7 linked regions of the Homo sapiens genome follow. The protein of the gene in region 5 purifies or fractionates together with the protein of the main gene of each other region. This does not show direct contact. Each region holds a gene or a part of one and is shown on either strand. Other genes may lie near its edges. The genes, in order: AP1M2, AP1AR, SYNRG, CLINT1, AP1S2, HEATR5B and AFTPH.

The links.
Region 1: the proteins of AP1S2 (region 5) and AP1M2 purify together in Homo sapiens (affinity purification with mass spectrometry; 3 studies listed by BioGRID and IntAct, with this or other methods). This does not show direct contact.
Region 2: the proteins of AP1S2 (region 5) and AP1AR purify together in Homo sapiens (affinity purification with mass spectrometry; 3 studies listed by BioGRID and IntAct, with this or other methods). This does not show direct contact.
Region 3: the proteins of AP1S2 (region 5) and SYNRG purify together in Homo sapiens (affinity purification with mass spectrometry; 3 studies listed by BioGRID and IntAct, with this or other methods). This does not show direct contact.
Region 4: the proteins of AP1S2 (region 5) and CLINT1 purify together in Homo sapiens (affinity purification with mass spectrometry; 3 studies listed by BioGRID and IntAct, with this or other methods). This does not show direct contact.
Region 6: the proteins of AP1S2 (region 5) and HEATR5B purify together in Homo sapiens (affinity purification with mass spectrometry; 3 studies listed by BioGRID and IntAct, with this or other methods). This does not show direct contact.
Region 7: the proteins of AP1S2 (region 5) and AFTPH purify together in Homo sapiens (affinity purification with mass spectrometry; 3 studies listed by BioGRID and IntAct, with this or other methods). This does not show direct contact.

The regions. Positions count from the first base shown.
Region 1 is NC_000019.10:10,574,114-10,577,515, reverse strand, and holds part of AP1M2 (AP-1 complex subunit mu-2), read left to right. Parts: intron 1-159; coding exon 160-318; intron 319-2,486; coding exon 2,487-2,612; intron 2,613-3,023; coding exon 3,024-3,099; intron 3,100-3,402. UniProt on the Homo sapiens protein: Subunit of clathrin-associated adaptor protein complex 1 that plays a role in protein sorting in the trans-Golgi network (TGN) and endosomes.
Region 2 is NC_000004.12:112,230,016-112,235,146, reverse strand, and holds the start of AP1AR (AP-1 complex-associated regulatory protein), read right to left. Parts: upstream 3,361-5,131; 5' UTR 3,056-3,360; coding exon 2,973-3,055; intron 2,872-2,972; exon of another isoform or gene 2,775-2,871; intron 1-2,774. UniProt on the Homo sapiens protein: Necessary for adaptor protein complex 1 (AP-1)-dependent transport between the trans-Golgi network and endosomes. Regulates the membrane association of AP1G1/gamma1-adaptin, one of the subunits of the AP-1 adaptor complex.
Region 3 is NC_000017.11:37,599,187-37,603,517, forward strand, and holds part of SYNRG (synergin gamma), read right to left. Parts: intron 1,218-4,331; coding exon 1,177-1,217; intron 1-1,176. UniProt on the Homo sapiens protein: Plays a role in endocytosis and/or membrane trafficking at the trans-Golgi network (TGN). May act by linking the adapter protein complex AP-1 to other proteins. Component of clathrin-coated vesicles.
Region 4 is NC_000005.10:157,852,131-157,856,461, forward strand, and holds part of CLINT1 (clathrin interactor 1), read right to left. Parts: intron 1-4,331. UniProt on the Homo sapiens protein: Binds to membranes enriched in phosphatidylinositol 4,5-bisphosphate (PtdIns(4,5)P2). May have a role in transport via clathrin-coated vesicles from the trans-Golgi network to endosomes. Stimulates clathrin assembly.
Region 5 is NC_000023.11:15,824,836-15,828,420, forward strand, and holds the end of AP1S2 (AP-1 complex subunit sigma-2), read right to left. Parts: intron 3,366-3,585; coding exon 3,357-3,365; intron 2,538-3,356; coding exon 2,490-2,537; 3' UTR 971-2,489; downstream 1-970. UniProt on the Homo sapiens protein: Subunit of clathrin-associated adaptor protein complex 1 that plays a role in protein sorting in the late-Golgi/trans-Golgi network (TGN) and/or endosomes.
Region 6 is NC_000002.12:37,056,235-37,060,565, forward strand, and holds part of HEATR5B (HEAT repeat-containing protein 5B), read right to left. Parts: intron 2,754-4,331; coding exon 2,654-2,753; intron 2,327-2,653; coding exon 2,217-2,326; intron 1,247-2,216; coding exon 1,083-1,246; intron 382-1,082; coding exon 206-381; intron 1-205.
Region 7 is NC_000002.12:64,547,836-64,552,166, forward strand, and holds part of AFTPH (aftiphilin), read left to right. Parts: intron 1-3,269; exon of another isoform or gene 3,270-3,429; intron 3,430-3,607; 5' UTR 3,608-3,639; coding exon 3,640-4,331. UniProt on the Homo sapiens protein: Component of clathrin-coated vesicles.

The sequences.
Region 1 (3,402 bases), on a different chromosome or scaffold from region 5:
CTTACAGCCAGCCGAGATCGCGCCACTGCACTCCAGCCTGGGCGACAGAGTGAGACTCCGTCTCAAAAAAAAAAAAAAAAAAAAAAAAAAAAGGGCTTGGTAAATATTTGAAGGATGAGCAAGCGAATTCTTCGTGCCCCATGCTCGCTCCCCTGACAGGCCAAGGGGCAGTTTAAGAAACAGTCAGTGGCCAACGGTGTGGAGATATCTGTGCCTGTACCCAGCGATGCCGACTCCCCCAGATTCAAGACCAGTGTGGGCAGCGCCAAGTATGTGCCGGAGAGAAACGTCGTGATTTGGAGTATTAAGTCTTTCCCGGTAAGTACCAGGGACTGGCGGGGGATCTGGGGGTGGAGGGGACTGGAGTAGTGTGGGGGCTGCCCAGGAGCCATGAGAACAAGGCAGAGAACAAATCAGAGACCCAGTCAGGTGTGATGGCTCATGACTGGAATGCCAGTACTTTGAGAGGCTGACACGGGCAGATCGCTTGAACCCAGGAGCTGGAGACCAGCCTGGGGAACACAGTGAGACCCTGCCTCTATAAAAATATTAAGAGGAGCTGGGCGCAGTGGCTCACGCCTGAAATCCCAGCCTGGCTAACATAGAGACGGCTAACATCCGTCTCTAGTAAAAGTACAAAAATTAGCTGGGTGTGGTGGCGCATGCCTGTAATCCCAGCCACTCGGGACACTGAGGCAGGAGAATTGCTTGAACCCGGGAGGCAGAGGTTGCAGTGAGCTGAGATTGTGCCACTGCACACTCCAGCCTGGGCAACAGAACGAGACTCCGTCTCAAAAAAAAAAAAAAAAGATTAAAAGGCCAGACATGGTGGCTCATACCTGTAATCCCAGCACTTTGGGAGGCTGAAGCGGGCAGATCACCTGAGGTCAGAAGTTCAAGACCAGCCTGGCCAACATGGTGAAAACCCGTCTCTACTAAAAATACAAAAATTAGGGCAGGGCACGGTGGCTCACGCCTGTAATCCCAGCACTTTGGGAGGCCGAGGTGGGCGGATCACGAGGTCAGGAGATCGAGACCATCCTGGCTAACATGGTGAAACCCCATCTCTACTAAAAATACAAAAAATTAGCCGGGCGTGGTTGCAGGCGCCTGTAGTCCCAGCTATTTGGGAGGCTGAGGCAGGAGAATGGCCTGAACTCGGGAGGTGGAGCTTGCAGTGAGCAGAGATCACGCCACTGCACTCCAGCCTGGGTGACAGAGCGAGACTCCATTTCAAAAAAAAAAAAAAAAAAAAAATTAGCCGGGCATGGGGGTGTGCGCCTGTAGTACCAGCTACTCAGGAGGCTGAGGCAGGAGAATCACTTGAACCCGGGAGGCGGAGGTTGCAGTGAGTTGAGATCACGCCACCGCACTCCAGCCTGGGTGACAGAGTGAAACTCTGTCTCAAGAAAAAAAAAAAAACTTAGAAAAAAGAAATACAAGGCCAGGCGCAGTGGCTCACGCCTGTAATTCCCAGCACTTTGGGAGGCTGAGGCGGGCAGATTACGAGGTCAGGAGATCGAGACCATCCTGGCTAACACTGTGAAACCCCGTCTCTACTAAAAATACAAAAAAAAAAAAAATTAGCTGGGCGTGGTGGCGGGCGCCTGTAGTCCCAGCTACCGGGAGGCTGAGGCAGGAGAATGGCGTGAACCTGGGAGGCGGAGCTTGCAGTGAGCCAAGACCGCACCACTACACTCCAGCCTGGGCGACAGAGTAAGACTCCATCTCAAAAAAAAAAAAAAAGAAAAAAAAAGAAAAAAAAAGAAAAAAGAAATACAAGTAAATCAGAGAGGTACGTATGTATGCAAGTGATCAAGCTTGAAACCAGGCCAGTCTATTTCACAGACGTGTAAACTTCCATGACGGGAAGTGTGTGGATTTAAATATCCCCCTGCCAATGTCTTGAGGAAACCAGCCCTGGGTTCACCTTCCTCACTATTGCTTTGCTGAGCTGGGTGGGTTTGGGAAACCCATTTCCACTTAAGGAGGCTCAGTTTGCCTGTCTGTGAAATGGGCAGGATGAGGTGACCCACATCCCTTGGCTACTAGAGGTTTTGGTTTGTCCCCATGATCTTGGGAGAGGTGGATCATCAGTGCCTGTAAAACAGGACATGGTAGTTAAAAAAAGAAAAAAACCCTGATTGGGTTTTGCAGTCAGAATCTTCCCTGGTGAGTCTCTGTCACCCAGGTTGGGGTGCAGTGGTGAGATCATGGCTCACTGCAGCCTCAAACTCCCAGACTCAAGGGATCTTCCTGCCTCAGCCTCCCAAGTAGCTGAAACTGCAGGCATGTTCCACCGCACCCAGCTAATTTTTAAACTTTTTGTAGACATGGTATCTCAATATGTTGCCCAGGCTAAGGAGCCTTTATTTTCCTGTCTGTGAAATGGGCTGTGAGCAGATCTGACTCCAGGGGTTGCTGAAAGGAAGGTCTCGGGAGGGTAGGCGGACCCTCGTGTACCTGATGCCCCCATGTTCCCTCAGGGGGGCAAGGAGTACTTGATGCGAGCCCACTTTGGCCTCCCCAGTGTGGAAAAGGAAGAGGTGGAGGGCCGGCCCCCCATCGGGGTCAAGTTTGAGATCCCCTACTTCACCGTCTCTGGGATCCAGGTGAGAGAAGCAGGCAGGGAGGATCCTCCCCTTGACTTCGGTGGGTTCCCCTCTCTCCTGTCCCTTGGCTCGAGTCACCTCAGTCCCCTGGCCTGTGTCAACACTCCTCTGAAGGCTGCCTGGTCTTTCCCAGAGCAATGTTACCTTTATCTGCCCACAGCCTGTGCTCCCTCTCCCCCGGCCTGTGCCACCTTGTTCCCCACCGGCTTGTTCACTTCTGTCCCTTCTCCACCTCCAAAGCCATTCACCATTCCGTTGCCTGTGCCACCTCATCCCCCTAAGACCATGTGATATCCCCTCATCGATCCCAGCCTGTGCCACATAGCCGCTTGGCCTAAGCCGTCTCTTTCTCCCTGGCCCTGGCCTCCTCCCTCCTGCAATCCTGGACCACCTCTTTTCATTCCCTTCCAGGTCCGATACATGAAGATCATTGAGAAAAGTGGTTACCAGGCCCTGCCCTGGGTTCGCTACATCACCCAGAGTGGCGGTAAGGCAGCCCAGCTCCTGGGGACAATGGGGTGAGGGAAAGGCAGTGGGTAGGGACTCGAGGCTTTCACCACATTCTGGCTCAGAAAACCAACAAGGGTCAGGTGTGATGGTTCAGGTGTGTAATCCTAGCACTTTGGGAGGCCAAGGCGGGTGGATCTCTTGAGGCCGGGAGTTCGAGACCAACCTGGCCAACATGGTGAAACCCTGTTTCTACTAAAAATACAAAAATTAGCCGGGTGTGGTGGTGTATGCCTATAATCCAAGCTACTCAGGAAGCTGAGGCAGAATTGCTTGAACCCGG
Region 2 (5,131 bases), on a different chromosome or scaffold from region 5:
ATGCCTAAGTTTTATTCCTTAAAGATATTTAATTCTCTCTGCTTTAATCACCAAATGACTTCATTAGTAGTAGGGTTTCCAACATACGTCAACACTGATATTGATATTTTGACTGGTGAAACAGATATCCTAGAATATACAATACTAGAATTCCCTAGTATTTTATAAACTGGAAAAAGTGGTAATTCTGGTTTTGAGATTAAAATAGTAAAAAACGAGTGATCTGATTTTCAGATTTCTCAGGGGTATGTCAATCTGCAAGACTCAGAAACCAGGCCTTAGATCATAAGGCTTCCCTGTGAAGTCTAGCTTAAATCAAGCTAAAAAAGTTGAGGACACCCTCTTCTTTTGTGGTCACTACAAAGACATATAGGATCAAATCAAGTTTTTGTGATTACTCCTCAACTTTTTCACCTTTAGAAGAACTACTAACTATCCAGACCTATACTTGAAAGAAAATCAAAACAGCTGATAAAAAAAAAAAAAAACTAAAATAAGAGTTTAACCTTATTGCACAAGTAACTATATCCATCTGTCTCTACATGCTTACTGGAAGCTGCTAAAACAGTATTAAAATTGATGTTAAACAATAAGTTAATCAGAAAATTCAAGTAAGGGAACCGTCAAATCCTGTTTATAGACTTAAAGTAATAGGATCAATATCACCATTATATAATTTTAGATGACAGTGTCCACAACCTATAAACTCTCACTGCCTCCACAGGACTTGTTCAAAGAGCTTTGCCCACAAACAGTAAAAATCCAACCACAAGTTGAGTATACCTAACCCCAAAACCCAAAATCTGAAATGTTCCAAAATCTGAAACTTTTTGAGTGCCAACATGTTACTCAAAGAAAATGTTCATTGGAGAATTCTGGATTTCAGATTTTCAGATACTACACCAGTATATAATGCATATATTCCAAAATCTGAATAAAAATCTGAACTCCAAAGCAAGTATTTCAGATAAGAAATACTCAACCTGCTGGCCGGGCGCGGTGGCTCATGCCTGTAATCCCAGCACTTTGGGAGGCCAAGGCTGGCGAATCATGAGGTCAGGAGATCAAGACCATTCTGGCTAACAGGGTGAAACCCGGTCTCTACTAAAAATACAAAAAAATTAGCCGGGCATGGTGGCGGGCGCCTGCAGTCCCAGCTACTCAGGAGGCTGAGGCAGGAGAATGGCGTGAACCCGGGAGGCGAAGGTTGCAGTGAGCCGAGATCGCGCGCCACTGCACTCCAGCCTGGGCGACAGAGCGAGACTCCGTCTCAAAAAAAAAGAAAGAAATACTCCACCTGCTTATGTTTTTATGGCATATCTACAGACAATTAACACTCACGCTGATTCATGGATTTCCTCCTGCCACCTCCCTGTGCTGCCAAGCTCACGAGCTGAGGGAGTAGAACCTACAATTTTAATGCCGTACTCTACGGAGACCCCATGAAAAAAACAAAACTAAAGTCCACAGACACATCATGTAGTCCAAAGTCAAATATAAAGTTTTTTGCTTATCCATTTAGAATGTAAGTACTGCTCCCTCACCAACCAACTTTCTTGGAGTTAGAATTTAACGCCCTGTAACACAACTACAAATAATAGTAAAAGCCAAAGATTGTGTGGCATCTAGTTATTGGGCAAGCCTACTTAAGCAGCTTGACCTTGTAAGTTTCATTCACACACAAAAATTATAAATACTTAAACCAGATGATCCTGGATGACAAGATAAAACAACTGTCATGTCCCACTCAAGAGTAATAACTCATAAATTAGGGAAATCGAAATATTACACTAGGCACAAACTGCAAATCCTTGCCCTTCCATTCTAGGGATACTTAGTGTAAAACCTTAGCTATTTTGTATCAGAGAGGTGACACAATGCCTAATTAATGAATGAGAATCCTATATTTTATAAGATCTCCATTACCAAAGATTCAAATTATGATCATTTACTGCAATTTATTTATGTTGAACATCTTATTACCCAATAATGTTAGTTAAATGGAACAGATTATGAAAAATTAGCAATCTGTTTCAGAAAGTGCAAAACAGTCTTAGTCCTTACACAAACTGGCTTGGTTCAGATTTTCAATTCTAGGTTTGAATTCCGGAGGGACATTTAATAACAACAAAGCCAACCCCAAAGGAATTTGCTCTAATTTTTTCAATATATATGAAATAAAAAAACACAAAAACGGAATTATGAAATTACTATTCTGTGGATGGTGCATATACAAAACCTAAGCAATATCCCAGGTTTACTCAAGAGAAGTGAAGTTCAGAAGGACTGCAATTTACCTAATGTTACAGGACGTTTGAGTAGCAATCAGGGCAAGGAATTCCTCTCGAAATTTCAAAAACTTAATACGAAAAAATTACACATTGTCCCTGTAGTTATGAGCACCAAGAATCTGAATGCCCATTGGGAACTCTGCAATTCAGCAAGTCTTTGTAGCTACCAGAGTTCATCAGTATCTGGAACCTTATTTTACTCCAGCATCCAAATGACTTCTACTTAAAATCAATCTGAGGCATTAACTCCGGAGCCAGATCCCACCTGCTCTGCCAGGGCTAAAGAGAGGGTCAGATACAGGGATACTAGCTTTGGCGTTAAACCTAAGCTCAGCGCAGGGTGTGTCCAGGTTGCCGTGGAGCCGGTCCTACAGCCCATTAGCGCGAAGCTACCCCTTGTTTCCTGGAGATGATGTCTCCCGTGACTCCTTCCCCGCGTGACAGGGCGCCCTGGCAGGAGGGACACCCCGCCCCCTCTTCTACCTCTTTCCGAGGAGGCCCCAAGACCGGACCCCAGACTGGGCCTCCAAGACGACCACCAGTCTGACGTCTGCTAAGCAGTGAGTGTAGCAGGGCTCTCGACCGCCACCTCCAGCCGCCGGGGGACGGTGAAAGGGATTCCCCGCCGGGGGCCGAAGAGGAGGAGCCACGGGGGCCGGGCCCCTCCCCCAGCGGGCTTACCCTCCGCCGCCGCCTACTCGCTGCAGCCGCCCCGCTTCCTTGCGAAGCAGTCCGAAGCACTGCGTCCAGCAGCAGTTCCCCATCGCATGCCGCCCAGGCGCCGCCGCTCCTCCTCCTCCTCCCGCTCAATGCCCAAACCCAGGCCCGGCAGCTGCATCCGCACGGCACGAGCCGAAATGGGGTTCAAGGACCGAGGGCGGGCCGGCCAGAGCCCGGCGGCGTGAGGGCACGGGGCGACGAAAGACGAGGCGCTAGGGAACAAAGGCAGTGTTTACTCCAGCGGCCGCAGAGCCACCGCTGCGCGAGGGAGGAGCACCGGGCTCAAGGCTCTGGACTCCCTCGCCGTCCGCATGGCCCTTCTCGCCTCAGCTCCTAGCCCAGCGTGAGTGACCGCCTCCAGCTGCCGAAGGAGGCCAGTCCCCGCGAGCCGAGCACCCTGGCCCCGCCCCCAGCGCGCCCAGGCCCCTGCTCGCCGCCAACGCTGCCACACCCCCGGCCTCTCCCGCGCCCCAATTGGGCGCGCTACCTCGGTGCCCCGCCTTCTCTGGCGACCGGCCTGTGCGTCACTTCCGCTCGCTCCTGGTTCAGCCGCCTCTGCCTGCGAGACGGTTCAATTCCTGCGTGCGGACGTTTGTTTTGTTGGACCTTGACCTGACTAGGAAATTTCCCTCTCTCATTGCAGTTTCGGGCATCCTCGTCCGGAGCACGCTGGGCGTGGCATGGCTAAGGCTCAGCCTTCGAACTTTGTATCAAAGGCGTGTGAGGAGCCAGAGTCCCAGGCCGGAAGTCATAAGTGCGAAGGGGCGTTTCTCTGCACGGTGTGCTTAGTTTTTGTTAATACTGCACCATAAGCGGAAAATAGACTCGGGAACTGATTGAGGTTACTTTGAACGCACCAAGATTTTTTTCCGGTCTCTGGTTTGTGTCTTAATTTCCATACTGTTAATGTTTTAGGGAAACGTAATAATGGTGCATTATTGTCCTCGTTTTGTTTGAAAATCAGATCTTCACATAATTTTGGGTTGGGTAGTTGGGGTTCAGAGGAAATTGGCAAGAGGGCTGGGGTTTTTCGGGGACGTCAGCGTTGCCATTCCAAGCATGCTGCCCAGAACTGCTGTAGATGGGAAGAGAAAGCTGCTCTAATGTGTCCGCAGCCCTCTCAAGTGCTACCATATAATTCGCGTCTTGTTTGGCCTCAAGACAGTTGGCCTCACAATAGATATAAGATGTGGTTTAGTAGACACCTCGTCCAGTGGATAGGAGGATGCTCTCATGGACTGGACACATCAAGTTTTTAGCCTGTTTAATTAAACCTAGAAAAATTGTTACATTTTAGAAAGTTTTTATTGATGATAAAATGTTCTCTGAACTCATTTTCTTGCTTCTTTAAATACGTATCTGGTTTCAATCTTAGCACTGCTACTTACTAATGTTTATTTTATTTGGGTTTTAGTTGTTTTGTAATCAGAAGCATAGGATAACATTTGTCCCAATGGTTTGCTTTCAGTGAATGTTGGGATGACCGAATGACTTCCTAGTGAAAGCATTTTCTTTTCTCCTTCCAACCCCTGAAATTAGACAAATGTATTAATGAAATAATCATTAAAATTCAACTATAAATGTTTACAGAAACTGGTACATCTATCCTATGGAATATTTAGTAACAAATAGGAACACAGTATTGATGAACACACCCTGAAATGAATCTGTAGGAAATTATGGTTAAAGAAAAAGCCAATCTCAAATGCTTATATACTGTGTAATTCCATTATGTAACATCTCAGAATTGATAAATTTATGTAAGTGGACAACAGAATAATTGATTGCCATGGGTCAGGGAATGGAAATCCTGCATCTTGTCTATATTAATGTCAGTATTCTGGTTGTGATATTGCAATAGTTTTGTAACATGTCACCACTGGGGGAAACTAGATTAAAGATATACACGGTCATCTGTATATTATTTCTTAAAACTGCATGTGACACAATTGTCTCAATATAAAAAGTTTGATTAAAAAAATGCAGCTATAGACTTGACAGCACTTCCTATAGACATTCTATAAACCGTTATTAAAACTGAATCTCACTTAAAAATAATTTTTTTATAGTAAATCTGTTCTCTCAGTTAAGGATATGAATGATCCTCAGAAGCAATACAA
Region 3 (4,331 bases), on a different chromosome or scaffold from region 5:
GAAGCAGCTTGGTGTGACGGGAGAGGGAAGACTGTCAGAGTGAAAGAAATGAGCGGAAAGAAGCCAGATGAAGGCAGATCTATTCCTTCTTCACTGTTGTGTCCCAGTTGCATGGCAGCATGGGTCAAAATTATATTCCTTCACTACTATTTCCTTGAAGATAAAGCTAGAATTGATATTGGTGGGTCCTAGTCTGAGACCAAGAGAGAAAAGGTATACTTAGAGAAATTTCTAGGAATAGAACTGAGACTTGGCCGGATGTGGTGGCTCATGCCTGTAATCCCAGTGCTTTGGGAGGCCAAGGCAGGAGAATCGCTTAAGCCGAGGAATTTGATACCAGCCTGGGCAACATAGGGAGACCCTGTCTCTACAGAATATTTAAAAATTAGCCAGGCGTGGTGGTATGCACCTGTGGTCCCAGCTACCTGGGAAGCTGAGGTGGGAGGAATGCTTGAGCCTAGGTGGCTGAGGCTACAGTAAGCTATGACTGTGCCACTTATACTCCAGCCTGGACGACAGAGCAAGAGACTCCATCTCAAAAATAAAAATAAAAAACCAAACAAAATCCTGAGACTTAAATACTTAAGCTGAATCAGACTATGTGATCTCTTTTAATTTCAAAATTATATATTTATAAAACATGATTATAATAAGATACTATCATATAGATAAAAAATAGCAGTGTAAAACAACTAAAGATGTTTGTTTATTCATTCAACAAACATCTACAGATAACCTATTGTGCTGAATCAACATGCTGGGTGCTACAAATAATGCTAGATGAGCATTAGACAGACATGGCACTAACAATCTAGCAGAAGACTAGATAGAAGGAGAAAGACATCATTAAGTGAATTACAGCTCGTTTCATTTTTATCACCTGTTCTTTAACATTCTTGTCCTAAAAGTCTTTCACCTCTGAGGTTAAACAATCTATGAACATAATGTCTATGTAAGTTTGGGAGAAACGAGGAGTGATCCTTATTACTCCCAAAATTATATAATTTTTGAGAAAATTTAAGAGTAGCTGTCATATAGGACATACAGGTTTAAGAGTGCAGAAAATTTTACTCTATTCAGCAGCAACAGAACTTATTTTCTATTTACTTATTTAATTCCCAGATTCAGAAACACAAGAGTGAAAAATAAAAGTTCAAAACTTAAGCTCTCACATACCTTGAGGGGGTCTTATCCCACCTGCAACAGGAAACATGAAGCTGAAAACAGAATAAAAATACATTATAATCTTCGTATGTACAAAGATTTCAAATAACACGTGTACTTTTTTATATGGATAAAAGACTTGTAGATGGGACCTGGTGTTTGTTCTGCACCACAATACTGAATTGCCCAACATCAGTACACTGAGCATCCATAGGATGCATGTCAGCATGCTACTGCAGACGGAAACTTGTTGAAACAAAAGACAGAAGACCCTGAAATTAGTCCTGGCTCTGTCACTTCGTGTCCTCTCTGGATTCCAGTTTCCCCATCTATAAAATGAGAGAGTTTAGATTCAATTCAGTCAACATCTATTGAGTGTCAACTACATGAAATGATGGAATCTTATAATCAAAAATACACATATGCAGGCAAATAACTATACCACAGGGTAAATGTGCTAACTGCTATAAGCGAGGTCCAAATTATTAATAGAGATGAGAAGAAAAAGATGAATTTTAATGGGCTATATCTTGAGAAGTTTTATGGAAGTAGCTCTGGAGCTGAATCTTGAAGGAAAATAGAAGCACACTATATATTTTGAGCAAAAGCTCTGAGGCAGAGATGCAGGGATGTTTGGAGAAATGAATGTAGGTTAAATGTTAACTATATGATTTAAAAGCAAGCAGATTGTACAGGGCCTTTATTTTTATTTTTATTTATTTATTTATTTTTGTGAGATGGAGTTTCGCTCTTGTTGCCCAGGCTTGAGTGCAATGGCGCGATCTTGGCTCACTGCAGCCTCCACCTCCTGTGTTCAAGCAATTCTCCTGCCTCAGCCTCCTGAGTAGCTGGGATTACAGGCACCCGCCACCACGACTGGCTAATTTTTTGTATTTTTAGTAGAGGCAGGGTTTCACCATGTTGGCCAGGCTGGTCTCAAACTCCTGACCTCAGGTGATCCACCCGCCTCGGCCTCCCAAAGTGCTGGGATTACAGGTGTGAGCCACCGCACCTGGTCAAGGGCCTTTAAAATGTTTCATTTTATTTTGAATATTATATGAAGTTGTCAGAGGTTTTATTGTTATTGTGGTAACATATACATAACATAAAATTCTATCATTTTTAACCATTTTTAAGTGTATAATTCCATGGCATAATTAAGGACATTCACAATATTGTCAACCATTACCACTATCCATTTCCAGAACCTTTCCATCATCCCAAACAGAAACTCTGTACCCATTAAACAATAAGTCCTCATTTTAGAGCGTAAGAAAGCTCTCTTCTAAGGTTTTTTTTAAGCTGACAACTTTATTTTTATTTTATTTTTTTGAGACGGAGTTTGCTCTTGTCGTCCAGGTTGGAGTGTGATGGCATGATCTCAGCTCACTGCAACCTCCGCCTGCCAGGCTCAAGTGATTCTACTGCCTCAGCCTCCTATGTAGCTGGGACTACAGGCGAGCACTACCAAACCTGGCTAATTATTGTATTTTCAGTAGAGACAGGGTTTCACCATGATGGCCAGGCTGGTCTTGAACTCCTGGCCTCATGATCTGCCTGCCTTGGCCTCCCAAAGTGCTGGGGTTACAGACATGAGCTACGGCACTTGGCCTAGGCTCTTTTGAATAAAGGTTAAGCCTGGGCGACAGAGTGAGATTCCGTCTCAAATAAATAAATAAATAAAGGTTAAAAAGTTAAGCTCTGGCCAGGCGCAGTGGCTCACGTCTGTAATCCCAGCACTTTGGGAGGCCAAGGTAGGTGGATCACCTGAGGTTGGGAGTTCCAGACCAGCCTGACCAACATGGAGAAACCCCATCTCTACTAAAAATACAAAATTAGCTGGGCATGGTGGTGCATGCCTGCAATTCCAGCTACTCAGGAGGCTGTGAGGCAGGAGAATCACTTGAACCCAGGAGGCGGAGGTTGCAGTGAGCCAAGATCGCGCCATTGCACTTCAGCCTGGGCAACAAGAGTGAAACTCCGTTTCAAAAAAAAAAAAAAATTAAGCTCTGGTTGTAGATGAAATAGCCAAGGGCATATATCCAGTAACAAAACAACTAAGGACAAACTTGGAGAATTCTTGCAGTGAAAACTGAGTAGGAAATGGTCATTGAAAACCAAGGGAGTGCTTATAACTGAGAGTTATAACTGAAGAAGGACCACATTTCAACAAGGAAGTAGTTACCAGTGTCTAATGCTGTAGAATAGCGGTGAGAATGAAGATTAAAAAATAAATCACTGCTTTCAAAAATGGTGATTGTTAAGTGAGTTAGTTTCAACAAAGAAAGGGGAAGAGACCCTAGGGAGAAAAAATTTAAGAGACAAAATACATACCTAGTGATTTATAAGGTTTTTAAGGAAATGGGATTAACACGCGAAGGAGCAAAAGGGGGCCAGATGAGGTGGTGCATGCCTGTAATCCCAGCACTTTGGGAGGCCAAGGCAGGCGGATCACTTGAGGCCAGGAGTTCAAGACCAGCCTGGTCAACATGACAAAACCCCATCTTTACTAAAAATACAAAAATTAGCCAGGCGTGGTGGCATGTGCCTGTAATCCCAGCTATCCAGTAGGCTGAGACATGAGCATTGCTTGAACCCAGGAGGCGGAGGTTGCAGTGAGCTGAGATTGCCCCACTGCACTCCAGCCTGAGCAGACAGAATGACAGAAGGAGACTCTGTCTCAAAACAAAACAAAACAAAACAAAGTAGCAAAAGGGATCTGCTTTGAAAAGGAAGTGGGACTTCTTTCTCTGAGCCTGGAAAGAAAAAGGGACAAATCAAGGAAGACTTCTGAGTGAGAAAGGCTCTTAATCCGGGAGTCAAGGATCTGAAAAGGAGGTTTCTAGATACTCTTTAGAGAATCTAGTGAATGGCTGGGTCTGGTGGCTCACACCTATAATCCCAGCACTTTGGGGGGCCAAAGTGGGAGGATTGCTTGAGCCCATGAGTTTGAGACCAGCCTGGGCAACATAGTGAGACCTCATCTCTCCAAAATAATAATAATAACAACAACAACAACAATAAATAACATAAAAATTATAATGGTGATTCTTTTCCAGAAAGTTTTCAATTTACTGTGTCCAGTTCCATCAAAAGAATCACTATCTATGGGCGTTATAGCCTTAGATATAGCCTTACAATGAATTTCTCAAATAATAAGAGATGAA
Region 4 (4,331 bases), on a different chromosome or scaffold from region 5:
TTAGTAATGTTTTACATTAGCAGTTACTTTAAAATCTTGAGAATACACAAAACAAGCTGAACAAAATATTAAGAATTGGCAGATGGAATTCGCGATATGTCTTTCCAAAGACTTTATTCCTCAACATGTCTTTTGAAAGGGTATTTCTGCAATATGCTTTGCAATATTAAAGTAGAAGCCATTTATGATTTAGCAAAAATAATACAAGGCATAAACAACAGAGGTATTTAAATTAGCTGTCCTATATGTAGGCTAAACTGAGTCTTAAGAGAGAGTACTCACTGAAAATAATGATTTCATGGATGAAGATATAGTTCCTACATACTTACAAATAACCTAGTCTGACAATGATATCTCTATTTTCACAAACACTGTATTCCTTTGATTTTTCTAGTGTTATACTGTTTTGTGTGTAACAGTAATAACAGTAATAGATGTTTCAAGAGTTTACTGTATGTCAAGTACTATACTGTTTCACATTTAATCCTCATAATCCTATAAAATATCATCTCTATTTTACAGAGAAATAAAGATACCATTCTAACACATAAGATCACCGTTTCTAGTAGCAGACCTAAGATTTCAATCCAGTTCTCACCTCTGAACCACTAGCTATTCCCACATTTATTAAACACCATCTGGAGGCACCTAAGTATAGTGGCAAAGTATATTTGGCTAGCAAATTATTATAAAAATACATAGATGGACAAACACACATAATTAAGCTAAACAAGGAAAGCTCACATGAAGCGTTAACCTGAAAAACACAGAAGAGTAAACAGTAAAATATGTTGTCACCAAAGGTAGCTGAGACTAAAAAGTTAACTGTATATAAGAACCTTCAAAAGTACTAAAAATGTACTTTGAATCTGTGAAGTGATCTTCATTAAAACAAACATTGGAAACAAGTAGGAAAATAATATAAGCATACAAAAGGCCAGAGGCAATGGCTCATGCCTGTAATCCCAGCCCTTTGGGAGGCTAAGGCAGGCAGATCACATGAAGTCAGGAGTTCGAGACCAGCCTGGCCAAAGTGATGAAACCCCGTCTCTACAAAAATTAGCTGGGCATGGTGGCACATGCCTGTAATCCCAGCTACTTGGGTGGCTAAGGCAGGAGACTCGCTGGAACCTGGGAGGCAGAGGCCAGTCGCAGTGAGTTGAGATCACACCATGGCACTCCAGCCTGGGAGACAGAGCAAGACTCCATCTCAAGAAAGAAAGAAAAAAAAAAAAGTCCAGAAAAAGACTCAACTGTAGAGCCATATTGTGAAACCTTGGATTACTAGCAAATGGCACTCAAAATAAAAAAGGCTAAGTACTTTCAATGGACATATCAGTAAACAGATGAAAAACTGCTTTGTAGGCCGGGCACGGAGGCTCACGCCTGTAATCCCAGCACTTTGGGAGTCTGAGGCAGGTGGATCACCTGAGGTCAAGAGTTCAAGACCAGCCTGGCCAACATGACGAAATCTCGTCTCTACTAAAATTACAAAAATTAGCCGGGCATGGTGGCACGTGCCTGTAATCCCAGCTACTCAGGAGGCTGAAGCAAGAGAATTGCTTGAACCCAGGAGGCAGAGGTTGCAGTGAGCCAATATCGCACCATTGCACTCCAGCCTGGGCAACGAGAGCGAGACACCATCTCAAAAAAAAAAAAAAAAAAAAAAAAAGAAAAACTGCTTGTAAACTAATACTAAAGTGTGCAAGAAAACATAAGAGGCAGTTAAGTGCTTTTTAAAAGCACCCTGACAGTAGTACTAAATAGATTAAACTACAGAAAATTACCCCTAAGAAATGCTAGCAGAGATAAACCAAACTCATCTTTCTTTGGAATTAAATTCCTAATATCTACTTGTGTCCAGTTACTAGAAAAGGAGGAGAATAATTAATTCATTGTTTCAGCAATAACAATTACTTATAATCGGTTCAAAGAAAAGTTGACATGGGAAGACTAGAAAGCTGACAACTATCTTACTATCTCTGCTTTCAAATTCCAAGAAGCAAACTGAACAGAGATTTACTGGTAAGATAAAGAAAATAAAGGGGATGATATCTGAAGACTGAAAGAAAAGAAAAGAAAAATAATCCATTCAAGTTGTAGCATATTTGTAGTGGCAAGGTTCTTGAAGGCAGGTATTGTATGTTTCGAGTTCAGAAAATAGAGTACTAGACCAGGCGCAATGGCTCCCGCCTGTAATCCCTGCGCTTCAGGATGCTGAGGCAGGCAGACTGCCTGAGCCCAGGAGTTCAAGACTAGCCTGGGCAACATAGCAAGAACCCTTCTCCACAAAAAAATTTTTTAAAATTAGCCACGCATGGAGGCGCAGCTGTGGTCCCAGCTGCAGTGTGCATGTTTGCATCACTGTGCTCCAGCCTGGACAACTGAGTGTGACCCTGTCTCAAAAATAAAAAATAAAAAGAAACCAGACTACTAATCCAATAAATAACAAATGTATTGCCTGTTAAAATAAATGAATATACTATTCTTTATAAAAGCAAAAGTTTCTCCCTCTGGAGTCAGGAGACTAGAACAGCAGTTTCTACAGCTCTATTACATTATCTAAACATTTAGGAACTAAAACCAAGCAAATATACATCAATAAAAATCAACTTATGAGGGAAAATGCAAGCTATGCTTAGGAGAATAACTTAAAATGGACTACCCATAGCTGTTGCCTTAGGACCTTAGCCAGAGCTGTTTGAATCACTATCAAAAAAAGGGCCACTGAGGCTGGGCAAGGTGGCTCATGCCTGTAATCCCAGCACTTTGGGAGGCCGAGGTGGGTGGATCACCTGAGGTCACAAGTTTGAGACCAGCCTGGCCAACACAGCAAAACCTCAGCTGTATGAAAAATACAAAAATTAGCCAGGCATGGAGGTAGACGCCTGTAATCCCAGCTACTCGGGAGGCTGAGGCAGGAGAATCATTTGAACCCGGGAGGTAGAGATTGCAGTGGGCTGAAATCACGCCATTGCACTTCAGCCTGGGGGATAAAGTGAACTGTCTCCGAAAAAAAAAAAAGGCGGGGGGGGGGGCGGGTCACTGATGAAAGAGATTTACCACTAATATTACTCCTTGCAAGGAAAGAGAAGGATTCGCTGAGCTTGAACAAATAAGTAGCAGTTTTGATCTACCACTACCATGTCACCTTCATTACATTCCTCAAATCTAGAGAGAAAATAGAACTGCAGCAACTTTCAATTTTACCATGTATAGGATGACAAAATATAAACATGTCCAATTTTATTACAGCCACAAGTAAAGATAGGTCATAGGATGACAATGATTAAGCTAGTGCTCCTAGTTGGTGGGAATGGTGCCACTTATCCTTTCCTGCCACATCGCCTTTTATGCAACTTGACGAGTGGGAAGATACTGGCATTCCAAGCTCTGGCAGGCCTATGGCTTTATCTGCTTCCCTCAGTTCCACAATGTTCTGCAAAACAAATCCCTCTACTGCCACCAGGAGGTGCAGCGATTGTGGAAAATATACCCCCACTTCCAGAAAAAGTCTTCAAGGTCTCAAAAGCCAGTGTTTGAAATACATCATTATCACTTTGAGTAGCTGAGATGGGTGGATCACCTGAGGTCAGGAGTTCAAGACCAGCCTGGCCAACATGGCGAAACCCCGTGTCTACTAAAAATACACAGATTAGCTGGGTGTGGTGGCAGGCACCTGTAATTCCAGCTACTAGGGAGGCTGAGGCAGGAGACTCGCTTGAACCCCAGAAGTGTAAGCTGCAGTGAGCTGAGATCTCGCCACTGCACTTCAGCCCCGGGAACAAGAGCGAAACCCCATCTCAAAAAAAAAAAAGAAATACATCATTACACTTAAGAGCCGCTACCATACTGAATCTAAGAGTGGCTCCAGGAAACACATTTTTCAGAGTACATTTCTTTTTCTGAAGTAAAACCTCACTGGGTATCAATATACACTAAAAGTCCTAGTCTTCCTGAGTCATGGTCTTATTTATTGCATAAAATATTTAAGTATAACATTTATTGATTACCACTTTTTAAGAAAATTTCCCTTTTCAGCCTAAATTGTCTACAGAGGATAATGGCTCCAAAATTTGTCTGCTATTGTAAAAACTAGTTCCAACTATTTTTCCTTGATGGAAATGCATTTCTCCAATAGCCATCAAAGGTGGAAAAAGTCTTACTCTAGCCAGGTCCCCTCATTTTACAGATAAGGAAGGCAAAGTCTGGAGATTCATGTGATTCTGCCTCAAATCATACATACAGCTAATTAAAAACGTAATGCCAGAATATGAACCAGATAGTTAAACCCCTAACCTTTCTCTCATAGAAGCCCTCATTCTATTGAT
Region 5 (3,585 bases):
TGAGATTTGGGAATAAGGACTTAAAACATACGTAAAATACTGAAACGTTAACGAAATTTAAGTAGGAAGAAAGTTTCCTCAAAATTGGAATTTCTGCATGATATCTGTTAAGGATGAGAGTTCTTTCATGTGTAGTCAATAAAAGAAATCATGCATGTGGCCCAGGATAATTTCACTTTAAAAAGTTGGATTTGTTCCAGACTCTAAATGCCTGCTTCACCCTGAAAATGATTGACCTAGAACTATCTACTGATTTCAGTAACGCCGAGTAATTATCATTAAATTCAGTATTTTTTAATACTTTTCTAAATACAGTCAAGATATATGCAATTAAATGTGGTCTGCAAAGCTGAAATCTTAATAAATCATGGAGGCTAAGAAAGAAAACCACCATCTTGAGCTCAGGACAACTGAGATATTGATGACTTTCCCCTCAAATGTTAATAGGCAGGGTAGAAGGGCAGGAAGTTTTTAAACCACTGACTGGTTCATTATCCTGATAAATGTCCATCTTGAACTTAAATTTATTAGTTTTTTTTAATATATATTGCCTGATTACTATTTATGTTTCAAAAATTCCAACTATACATTGCTAGCAGAAACCCACAGGCCTGTTTTCAGTGAATAGCTAGCTGCATGTTGGAGGCTTTTTAAACCTATAAACGTCTTTTTTTCCAGTAGACTAGCAACTTAATTTGATGGTAGTTCCTGCCTCCTTCTTAAATAGCCCAGTTTTAGAATGTAACATTTCCTATCTGTAGTAATAGGAGGTCCCTTAACTATCATGATTACCATAGATTTGATTTGTTGCATAGGTTAGGTAGTACAGTCTGCAAGTATTAGTCCCTTTCTGTTGCATGTGCTAGCACCTTCAGTTCACAAGGGGGTAAGAGGAATCCAGTTGATTTGAAATACCTTTTGAGTAACAGTCTAAGTTGTTCATTCAGAAAGAGTAGAAAAGTCAACTGCATCAAGGTTTTAAAAGCAGCATTTATTGATTGAAAATAAATGTGTAGATAGGCTCTCAGTATGGAATCCATGTTATTTTTTAATGAAGTACATGAAGACTCCTTAGATCTTCCACCATGTATCTTGTGTGTGCTTATAACAACCACCATATTCAAATGGAGGGGAATTTTCAACATTTTACTGAAAAAAAAATGAGAAATTCTTCCTTCAGCAGCTCTGCATAGTTTGACAAACTTTTGGAAAGAGATAAAAACACACTCCAGTGTTTGTACGTTGAACGTTTATTACAACTAATTGGCGATGTGATAAGACAGTGCTCACGTGGCCTGAATGTTGGTCACAATCACAACAAAGCTTAATCCAGCCCAGCATATATAAGTGAAAATATAAACCATGAAGACATGTTTAGATATGTATAAGTACTTAGAAAAGTGACGCTGAACAATTACATAGCTTTAAAAAATATAGAGCCATCTAATGCCATTTTACCTCATTCAACTCTTTTTTGTAAGAAATGTGTCTTTTTAAATTTTTATAAGACTTCTGTTAACTAGGCAGTGCCATGGAAAGAAAGGAAGCTGCTGTAAAGTGTGCAGCACTTCTAAGTGGAGGGAAGCAAAATAAATTTAGCTTTAACAAGTACCCCAGAGGGAACATTCGTGCTTTAAACAATGACTTTACACATAATACTGTGAAGAGAGCAACACGTTTTTTGTAAGATACTGTTATGAAGAATTCCTGGCAAATTACCATTCTCACTTTATTTTGGGGCATCAAAAACAACTAAGTATTTGATTATGACCACAAAAAATTCATCTCAGGAGTCAAATGTGCCTTGGCCTTAAAAATTATGTGCTTACTATTGTGAAACAATCCTGTTTCTCATCCCAGATTCAGAATGCCTAAGAAATAATTTTTAGTGTAAGAAGTATCACTCCAATTTAGTCATTAAAAATAATCTGTAGTCCTTTAAAAAAAAAAAAAAAAGGTATGTAATTTCCAATACAAGTCTTTGGAGTAAATTTGCTTTTTAAAGTTTCAACAAAGTTTCCATTCATTTGATATGTGACATGTCAATTCCCTTTTTTTTTTTTTTTACATATGCTGAAATGCTGCACTAGTCTTTGGTTTCATAAAACCAGGTTTCACATTATAATTTAAGAGTTTCCTTTGTCAAATACAGTAATTAATAAATGTATACTGCCTGATTTTACATGTATATGATGTGCCATTTTCATATGTGCACATAATCAGATTAAGAGAAACTGACCTTTAAACTTTAAAATATCCAGAAAAGGTATCTCTTTCTGCACCATTCTAATTCATATTTAAGTCCCTTATCACTTAATTAACTAAAGTTCCCTTTTAAAAAAAAATTGTGTAGGCATGAATGAAGCGGCTTAGCAAAACAGTAATACTGACAAGACATCATCTTACACCATGAGCTAACATGGACATGAAGGGAGTGACCATCTACAGTGTGTGAAATGCCACAAGAAGTCATCAACAAGGGAGGAGAGTTATGTCAGTCCAATTTCTTCAAGAACACTACGTGGGGTTTCAGCTTCCTGTGGAGGGAAAATGTGAGACTCTGGTAAGCAGATCCAGGGAGTCTTGAGAATGTGAAACATTGACATGGAAGAACATGCTTGTTTTAGAGAATCAAGAAAGCAATTTCGTGTCACAGTAGCATTCTAGTTGACAGCCATTGGTTATTTAGGGTTTTGTGCCCTCAAAATTGGAGACCACAAAAGGACGTTTTCAGCATTCATTAAGTACCTGCTAATTACCTACCAATGTGCTAGATGCCGTTGCTGTCATGCAAAAAGCAGTCAAGCCCAGTGCAAACCTGCTGGCAATTTATGAAATCACTGCTACTCAATTATATATATGAAAGATAAGTTATCTTAGTGGTAAAATTCAAAACCTCTTCCCTCCGAGTTCCCACAGTTCTTCGCCTACTGTTGTGTTCCATGCTTTTTGTCACATGCATTTATAGAAATGTCTTCCTCTTGGAGTTTTTAGTTAACTGTGTCCACAGCGGCAAGTCTTCAGAAACAGCTATCTTCCCAGACCTCCCCAGTGCAACCAATGGCATCACTAGAGGCCACATATGCAAAGAATGCCATGGGCCAAAGGCATTTTTATTCTATGTAGCAACCAGCACTGGTTTTTAAGTGTCAAAGGAGGTCAAAACAAAGTAAGCATATCCAGGAAAAAATTATTTAATAATTTTCCAAAGTGGCTGATTTTGCAAATCACAAAATAAAGGACCAAGGAGGCCAACTTTCAGGTATTACTAGCAACGAATTTTGTAATTAAAAGGCAACACTATATTTTAATGATGGAAAATAATATAAATTTTTGGCATCCAGTAATAAACTTACTTTCGCATCCTAATCATGGTACAGCACAAAGCAAGGAGAAGAGAAATTATATTAAACCATAAATCTTTAGAATATTAATTGCATGTAAAGCACTTCATGGTGTAATCTTAAGTAAATTACTTAAACTCTATGGTCTGTTTCCTTATTTGGAAAACATGGATAATAGTACTTACCTTCATATGTTGAGATTAAGTGAATTAAGGCTCTGCCTAATTTATAGAAAGTGCTT
Region 6 (4,331 bases), on a different chromosome or scaffold from region 5:
CTTACATAAAGTCTCAAATTATGTGCAATTTGCATGCAATTTTTTTATCATGTATCTGTCACTTACATTAGTAAATCTGTAAGAGTACTGTTTTAAGTATTATAATAACTCACTTTATTGCAGAGTTAACTGGGATGAGAAAATCTACTTTTCGTTTAACATAATATATATTTAACAAAAATTACCTGATTGACTTTATACTAACCGGTGTTTATAAGAAACATGAGGAAACACTACACCAAAAAGGGCCACAGAAGCATCAATGACTGAGACTCCGAGAGGGAGGGGACCAGGTACTGCTTCTCCAGCAGGTATGCGTAAATAAATAGAGGAAGGATCATGCTCCAGAGCCCCACTTCCAGAGGCACTGTTTGGCTGGAGCTGCAAAAGAGTGAAATAAAAATTATTCAAAATCTACTTTAGGAAATCTACTTATTAAACATTGGGAATGAGGATTACAGCAGAGGAGAAAGGAGAAAAGGCAACAAAAAAAGAATGATTGGATCCGAACATTTGAAAACAGACCAAAATGTAATTTGGTCATTAAAAAATCATCAGTAACACCTTATACAAATTTTAAGAAAAGCTTTATTCATTCGAAAACATATTTACACCACCCACCTTATTGCGTGAACAATATACACAAGATCTTAATCCCACAATTATTTTAAATGGGGCTTTAATCACTCTTTAAAAAGTACATAAGAAATAATGTATTCAGTGGGCAAAAGTTCTAAATCTTCAACCTACTAACTCATTCCTCTCCAACCTGTCACAAAACAAAACAAACTAAAACAAAACAAAATACCAATAACCAAAAAGCCAGTTAAAACTGATCTTTATCACAGCCACCACAAGGTATCTAAATACACAGAATATTAAATAAAGACAATTTGCCAAATTCTCACTCTTCCTGTTTAACTTTTTTCACTATCTACCACCAGGATGCCATCTTTAAGTGTCTAAGAACACTAAATGGGGATTAAACCTTTCTATACACTATTTTCTTTTTAAGTGACAATGTGTAATAGGACCATTGTTTCAGATTAAGTTAGTATTTCATTTTCCTCTATGTTTATTACCTGGTCTTCAATTGATTTATGATCAGTTTCCTGAAGCCAAGAACCAAGAAGAACACTATCATCATAATGGCAGAGGGATCTGAGGAGGGAAGTAGTTGTGTTGGCTGAGTTGTCAGTCAAAGTGAATTCCGCTACCAGTTCTCTAAGAAGTGCATTAAAAGATCCTAAAAAACAGAACTTCAGATCAGATTAAAAAGAATAATTTTTGTGAAAATTATAATCATTGCCCACAAAGAGCTGCAACATGTTCAACAGGAATAAAATAATTAAGTCTCTGTTCTCTTCTTTAAAAAAAATCTATATTTAAATGCTGGTTTTAATATACAATAATGGTACTTCCTTTCATATATTGTATTGTGTCTTTTAGCCCAAATTATTTAAAATAACCAAAAAACTCAAATAGAGGAAAGAGAGGCGGGTGCCATAGCATGCTTGTAGTCCCAGCTACTCAGCAGGCTGAGGCAGGAGGATTGCTTGAGCCCAAGAGATTGAGACAAACCTCTGCAACACAGCAAGACCCTGTCTGAAAGACACACACAAACAAAGATACTTTATTTTAAATATATTAAATGTGATATGATTATTATTATTTATTGCCCAATAATGTACAATGAACCACAGCACACCAAAATTCTTTGGCATGATTATACTGGAAAGAAATCAATAGTTTATTTTACTATTAATATTTTACATAATATTTGATTTCTCCCTCCAGATCCTCGAATTATTTGCTATATTACAGTATATAGGAAGCATTTCAGTGTATTAATCAAAAGTGCACACTTTGAAGATAAACCAGCTAGATTTGAATCCAAGCTCTGCCACTTAACTACCTCTAAGTCTTGGGTAAGTTAAGTTTCTTTAAGTCTCTCAATCTGAGATTCTTCATCTATAAAATAGGGCTAAAGGCCTCATAAGTTGCAACACAGTCAAAAAGCTAATACAAAAGGCTGAAAACGAGACCCAGAACACAGTAAGGAGTCAACAAGTATCAGCTACTCTACATGAAGAAAAATAAAATGGTGGCCTTCCTTTGCACAGTAAGTCAGTGGGAGAGCCTTTGTCAAGACTCTATAATACGGTGAAGAATTGTAAAGAAAAATTTTTATCAGATACCACAAATTTTTAATTTACCTTCATAAGTTTTTGGAGGTAACAAAGCCAAGATATCATAAAGTCTTAAACGGACCATTGCAGCACTAGCTTTCAGATGAGCTCCATGGGCTTTCATTACAGATGGAATGCTAAAATATCAAAAACATAGTTGGTAATGGCTTACCAGAATAAGTATTACTTATAAATTTTTTTAGCAATGTATCAATGTACTGCCAAACTACACTGATAAGTATACACTTTCATTTTAGCTTATGTTGTGATCTTTGCTGTAACAAAAACACTTTAAGATACAACTGTATTTCAATCCACACCATTGCTGTAATTTTTAAAGTTATATTACAAAAATAAAGTTTTATGTTTCCTAGATGATTCTAGAAGAAAGCACAAAATATGGCTGAGAAGTATATTATTAATATATAAAATAGGATGTGAACTTGTCTCAATCGCTTACTTACTGTGACATCATAGTCATGGCACATTCAATAGGGGTCATCAATTTTCGAATCACATCTTCAGTTAGTAGCTCAGGACAATGTGCAACGAAGCTCCTCATGGCTAGATAAAATGTTTAAAAGGACAGATTTGGAGTAGCTTTTGTGAACATGAATTAATTTATAAAATTGTATAAATATAAAGGCAGTTGTAATACTTAATTATTATAACGTATAAGGTTCTGAAACCATGTCGAACCAAAAGAAAAACTTGCAACAACTACAAAGAAAAATCGTGGAAAAGGCTAGAAAAAAGGTGGATAGAAAAATGGAGGAAGAGAAGGTACTGGTTAGAGAGATTCTTCGGGTGGAAATTCAGAGGACTATGATCCCATAGGAATTCAGATGACTACAAAGAAAGAAATTTTAAGGCATTGTTTATACACATATACATTTATGTGTATAAACAATGCCTTAAAATTTACATGAAATTTTTACATATATTAAATATATTTTTGCAACTTTTACAGATATATATGTATATGTGTGTGTGTGTGTGTGTGTGTGTGTGTGTGTGTGTGTGTATATATATATATATATATTTTTTTTTTTTTTTTTTTGAGAGAGTCTCACTCTGTCAACCAGGCTGGAGTGCAGTGGCGGAATCTCGGCTCACTGCAACCTCCACGTCCTAGGTTCAAGCAATTCTCCTGACTCAATCTCCTGAGTAGCTGGGACTACAGGCAAGCACCAGCACGCCTGGCTAATTTTTGTATCTTTAGTAGAGACAAGGTTTCACCATATTGGTCAGGCTGGTCTAGAACTCCTGAGAGTGATCCACCCGCCTTGGCTTCCCAAAGTGCTGGGATTACAGGCATGAGCCACAGCACCCGGCCACTACATATATTTTTGCATTTTGAATTTTTACATATATTTGTGTAAATATATATGTATATAAACAAAAATGGTCCAGTGAGAAAAAAATATTTTTATTGGCCCCTTAGCAATAGAGCCTAGACTAAAACACCTCCTAGATGTGTGAGAGTAAAGGTGCCCCCTTGCCTGGCTGCCCTTGTGGTGAAACATGTATCTCTCTCCCAGTTTGGAAAAAGAAGTAGTTTTCACTCTGAGATAAACCAAAAAAGAACTGGTACATCCAATGTCATTCTAGTTATCAAACGAAACAAAACCTGAGCGTTTCCTGTAAGCTGTTAACTCCCAGACAAAAACAACTGTATCCGTTATTTTTGTAATGTTGATATCTGAAAAATATATGAAGGTTTGGAGATTTGATAAGGATGTGAAAAAACAGCTGTTTCTCCATTATGAAAAGACTAACTGCAAATGCCAATAACTTTGGTAATCCTGAGTTTCTTTTTCTTTAAATAGCTGTTGGGTATTTTTTCTTTTTTTTATACATGGTGACTCAGTGCTTCTTTGACAGGTAAGATAGCAACAAGTGGGAATAAGAGGCCTGGGTTCTAGTTCCTGTCTAACCACCAGGTCTAAACACTTTTTCAGAGTCTGGGTTTCATTTTTATTACAAAATTAGCAAACTGAAGTGGATCATTTATAAAGTTTCTATTTAAATCTAAAAGCCTATGAATTTATCATTACCTAGTAAAATAAAAAACTATAAAATAGTGATTTTTCTTTTACTTTACAAATATTTTAGTTATGTCATAATATTGTGAAGCACAAT
Region 7 (4,331 bases), on a different chromosome or scaffold from region 5:
AGTACAGTGGTGTGATCACAGCTCACTGCAGCCTTGACTTCCTGGACCCAAGCAATCCTCCCACCTTAGCCTCCCAAGTAGCTGGACTACAGGTGCATGCCACCATGCCTGGCTAATATTTTGTTTTTTTTGTAAAGACAGGGTTACATCATGTTGCCCAAGGCTGGTCTTGATCGAACTCCTGGGCTCAAGTAATTCACCCTCCTCAGCCCCCCAAAGTGCTGGGATTACAGGTGTGAGCCACTGCGCCCGGCTGCTTTTAAACTTTAGAAAAAGGGCCGGGCGCGGTGGCTCACGCCTGTAATCCCAGCACTTTGGGAGGCCGAGGCGGGTGGATCATGAGGTCAGGAGATCGAGACCATCCTGGCTAACAAGGTGAAACCCCGTCTCTACTAAAAATACAAAAAATTAGCCGGGCGCGGTGGCGGGCGCCTGTAGTCCCAGCTACTCGGGAGGCTGAGGCAGGAGAATGGCGTGAACCCGGGAAGCGGAGCTTGCAGTGAGCCGAGATTGCGCCACTGCAGTCCGCAGTCAGGCCTGGGCGACAGAGCGAGACTCCGTCTCAAAAAAAGAAAAAAAAAAAAAAAAAAAAAAAAAAAACTTTAGAAAAAGGAATCCTGTAGTTAATGGCTGTATAATATGCTATTGTAGGGATATAGTATAACTTGCCTAAATAATCCCTTTGCAGCATTTTGTTTTAGATTTCCTTAAAAGGAGTTTGCATAGTACAACCATATTGCCTTCTGGAAGGCTTGTAACAATTTACACTCACAAGCAATGTGCATGTGTGCAAGGGTTCCTTTCCCCACATTCTCATTAACAATCGCAAAGTGATTTTAAATAATAGGAACTTCATAATTAGAGGGACATAGTTAGAGGTCAGATTACCTCGTACACTAATTAGAAGGGGTTATCAGGACACTAGGCAAGGGAACAAAATAGGATTTGTGTGTATCTTGTACTTTTTTTTTTCTATTTAAATCAGCAGCAGGAAAGAAGAGTATGGCAGAGCAAAGCAGTTATTTCCTTCTTTATGGTGCTAATTTCGTAAGAAAGATAATTTGAAGTAGATATATTACAATGGAGCCTTTTCCTTTTCTTGTGACTTGCTCATTTCTTCCTGGTAACTCTGAGTGACTGACCAGTCGTTAACCTCAAAGATCCTTTTCAAAATTCTGAAGCCATTCTCCACTAAGCAGCTGTCTGAATGAACTTTGGGAAAGTTACTCACTAGTTGGCTTCATTTTCCTCACCTCTAAATTAAACTATGTGGTTTCTACGGTACCTTCACTCTAAAACTGTGGAAGATCTTAGGAAATTTTATTCTGAGAGAAGTCTAGCTTGCAAAACTGGTTGAATTTTGTAGTAAACATTTTCCTCATGTATCTAACTGGGCAGCTGTGAGTTGTAAGAAGTATCTGTTTATTATTTATGTGCTGGTTTTATTCTAGGACTTTGGCTGTTAGTCCTCCCTTTTTTTTTTTTTTTTTTTTTTTTTTTTTTGAAACCGAGTCTCACTCTGTCACTCAGGCTGGAGTGCTGTGGCACGATCTCGCCTCATTGCAATCTCCACCTCCTGGGTTCAAGTGATTCTCCTGCCTCAGCTTCCTAAGTAGCTGATATTACAGATGTGCACCACCACGCCCGGCTAATTTTTTTATTTTTAGTAGAGGTGGGGTTTCACCGTGTTGGCCAGGCTGGTCTTGAACTCCTGACCTCAAGCAATCTGCCCACCTCAGCCTCCCAAAGTGCTGGGATTATAGGTGGTCCCTTTGCTTGTAATGTTAAATCTGACCTGTGGAACTTTTGACTCCTCAGCACAGAGGAATAGAATAACTCAGGTTTCATTTAAGAATTAAATGTATTAAAAAGAAGCTATTACAAATTAATTAGTATGGGAAGGATTATTCAACAAAAGGGATTAAGACCATTGCTTGGCTGTTGAGAAAAAAAAAATTCACCTTACATTTTTGCTTTACATCATACACCAAAATAAGTTCTAGATGTGTTAAAATTAAATGTTTTTTATTCCCTAAAAGTAGAAGAAAATAAAAGTGAATATTTATTAACTTTTATATGACAGCAAAATAATGAAGAAAGTTGCATAAAACTTTCTTCATCTTCGTGAAAAAATCAATTGATTTGACTTCCTAAAATTAACTTGGGAAAACAGCTTGGCAGTTTCTTATAAAGTTGAGCATGCTACATGACGCAGCATTCACACTCCTGGGTTTATATATTTTAGAGAAATGAAAACATGGGTTCACATAGTAATCTGTACATGAATGTTCATAGCAGTTTTATTTGTAATAGGAAAATACTGGAAACAACCCACATATCCTATATGGAGTGAATGGGTAGACAACCTGTGGTACATCTATACAATGGAATGCTAGTTAGCAATGAAAAAGAGTCAGACCCAGGAGTGGTGATGTGCACCTGTAGTCTCAGCTACCCAGGAGGCTGAGGCAGGAGGATTGCTCAGCCCAAGAAACCAGCCTGGGCAACATAGTGAGACCCTGTCTCTGAAAAAAGAAAAAGAAAAGGAATGAACTGTTGACAAATGCAGCAACATGGATAGCTCTCAAGGGCATTATTAGGCTGAGGGAAAAAGCCAGCTTCAAAGGGTTATGTATTGTGTGATTCTATTTATATATAACATTCTTGATGTAACAAATTATAATGATGTAGAATAGATCGAGGATTAGGGTTTAGGGAAGAGTGTGACTATTAAGAGGTAACATGAGGGAGTTTTTTTTGTGTTGATAGAACAGTTCTTATCCTGATTGTAGTGATGGTCACTCTAATCCACACATATAAAATTTTTAGAACTGTACGCATGCACACACACACACACACACACACACACACACACACACACACACACACACACACAACTGGTGAAATCCAAACAAGGTCTGTACCTGAGTTAATAGTATTGTACTGATGTCAGTTTCCTGGTTTGACCATGTGTTATGGTTATTACCTTATTACTATATTACCATTGGGAGAAGCTAAGTGGAATATACACAAGAACTCTTGTATTTCCAACTTTTTTTGAGTCTTAAACTATTTCAAATTATTAAGTATTTAAAAATTAACTTGGGTCAGAAATAAACATTGAAAAGCCAAGTGAAGAAAATATTTGTAACAATTATTACTGATAAAATTTTGATGCCTTTATTAATATAAAGAACTCATACAAATCCATAAGGCAAGCACTGAATCCTTAATGAATTGAAGGAGAACTTAACAGAATAAGCACTTACCCCAGGAGAGAATTTTGTAGCTGTACTTTTGTAAGTGTATATTCAGAATTATCTGGAATCCCCACATTTCATTAATGTACTACCAGTGCTCTTGGTAACATGTAGTCTAAGAGAACTTTTTTTTTTTCCAGTGCACTATAGCTGTGTAAAGTAATTGCACCTAAGAGAAAAATAGATTAAAAGATACAAAACATCATGCAGGACATGGTCAAGGAAAAAAGGAGACAAAATAGAGCATTGTAAATTTGCATTGTTTTAAAGTAGCTTTGAGAGAATTTTGAAAGATCTTGTTCTATGTAATCTGTCCCCTCCAAAAATTCTTTTTTTCTTTTTTACAGGTGTAAATTAATTATTTGAAAGCAACTGAACAATGGAGCCAGACATCATTCGAATGTACTCTTCATCCCCACCACCATTAGACAATGGAGCAGAGGATGATGATGATGATGAATTTGGGGAATTTGGTGGGTTTTCAGAAGTTAGCCCTTCTGGTGTAGGGTTTGTTGATTTCGATACACCAGATTATACTCGTCCCAAGGAAGAGTTTGTACCTTCAAACCATTTTATGCCAATTCATGAATTCTCAGAAAATGTAGATAGCCTTACAAGCTTTAAGTCCATTAAAAATGGTAATGATAAGGACATCACTGCTGAACTTTCTGCTCCTGTGAAAGGACAGTCTGATGTTTTACTTTCTACCACCAGCAAAGAAATAATTTCATCTGAAATGTTAGCTACTTCCATTGATGGCATGGAAAGACCAGGAAATTTAAATAAAGTAGTGGAGCAGAGACAGAATGTTGGAACACTTGAAAGTTTCTCTCCAGGAGATTTTAGAACTAATATGAATGTTGTTCATCAAAACAAGCAGTTAGAGAGCTGCAATGGTGAAAAGCCTCCTTGTCTGGAGATTCTAACAAATGGGTTTGCAGTGTTGGAAACTGTAAATCCTCAGGGAACAGATGATCTGGACAATGTAGCTGATTCAAAGGGACGGAAGCCTCTTAGCACTCATAGCACTGAGTATAATTTAGACTCTGTACCTAGTCCTGCTGAGGAATT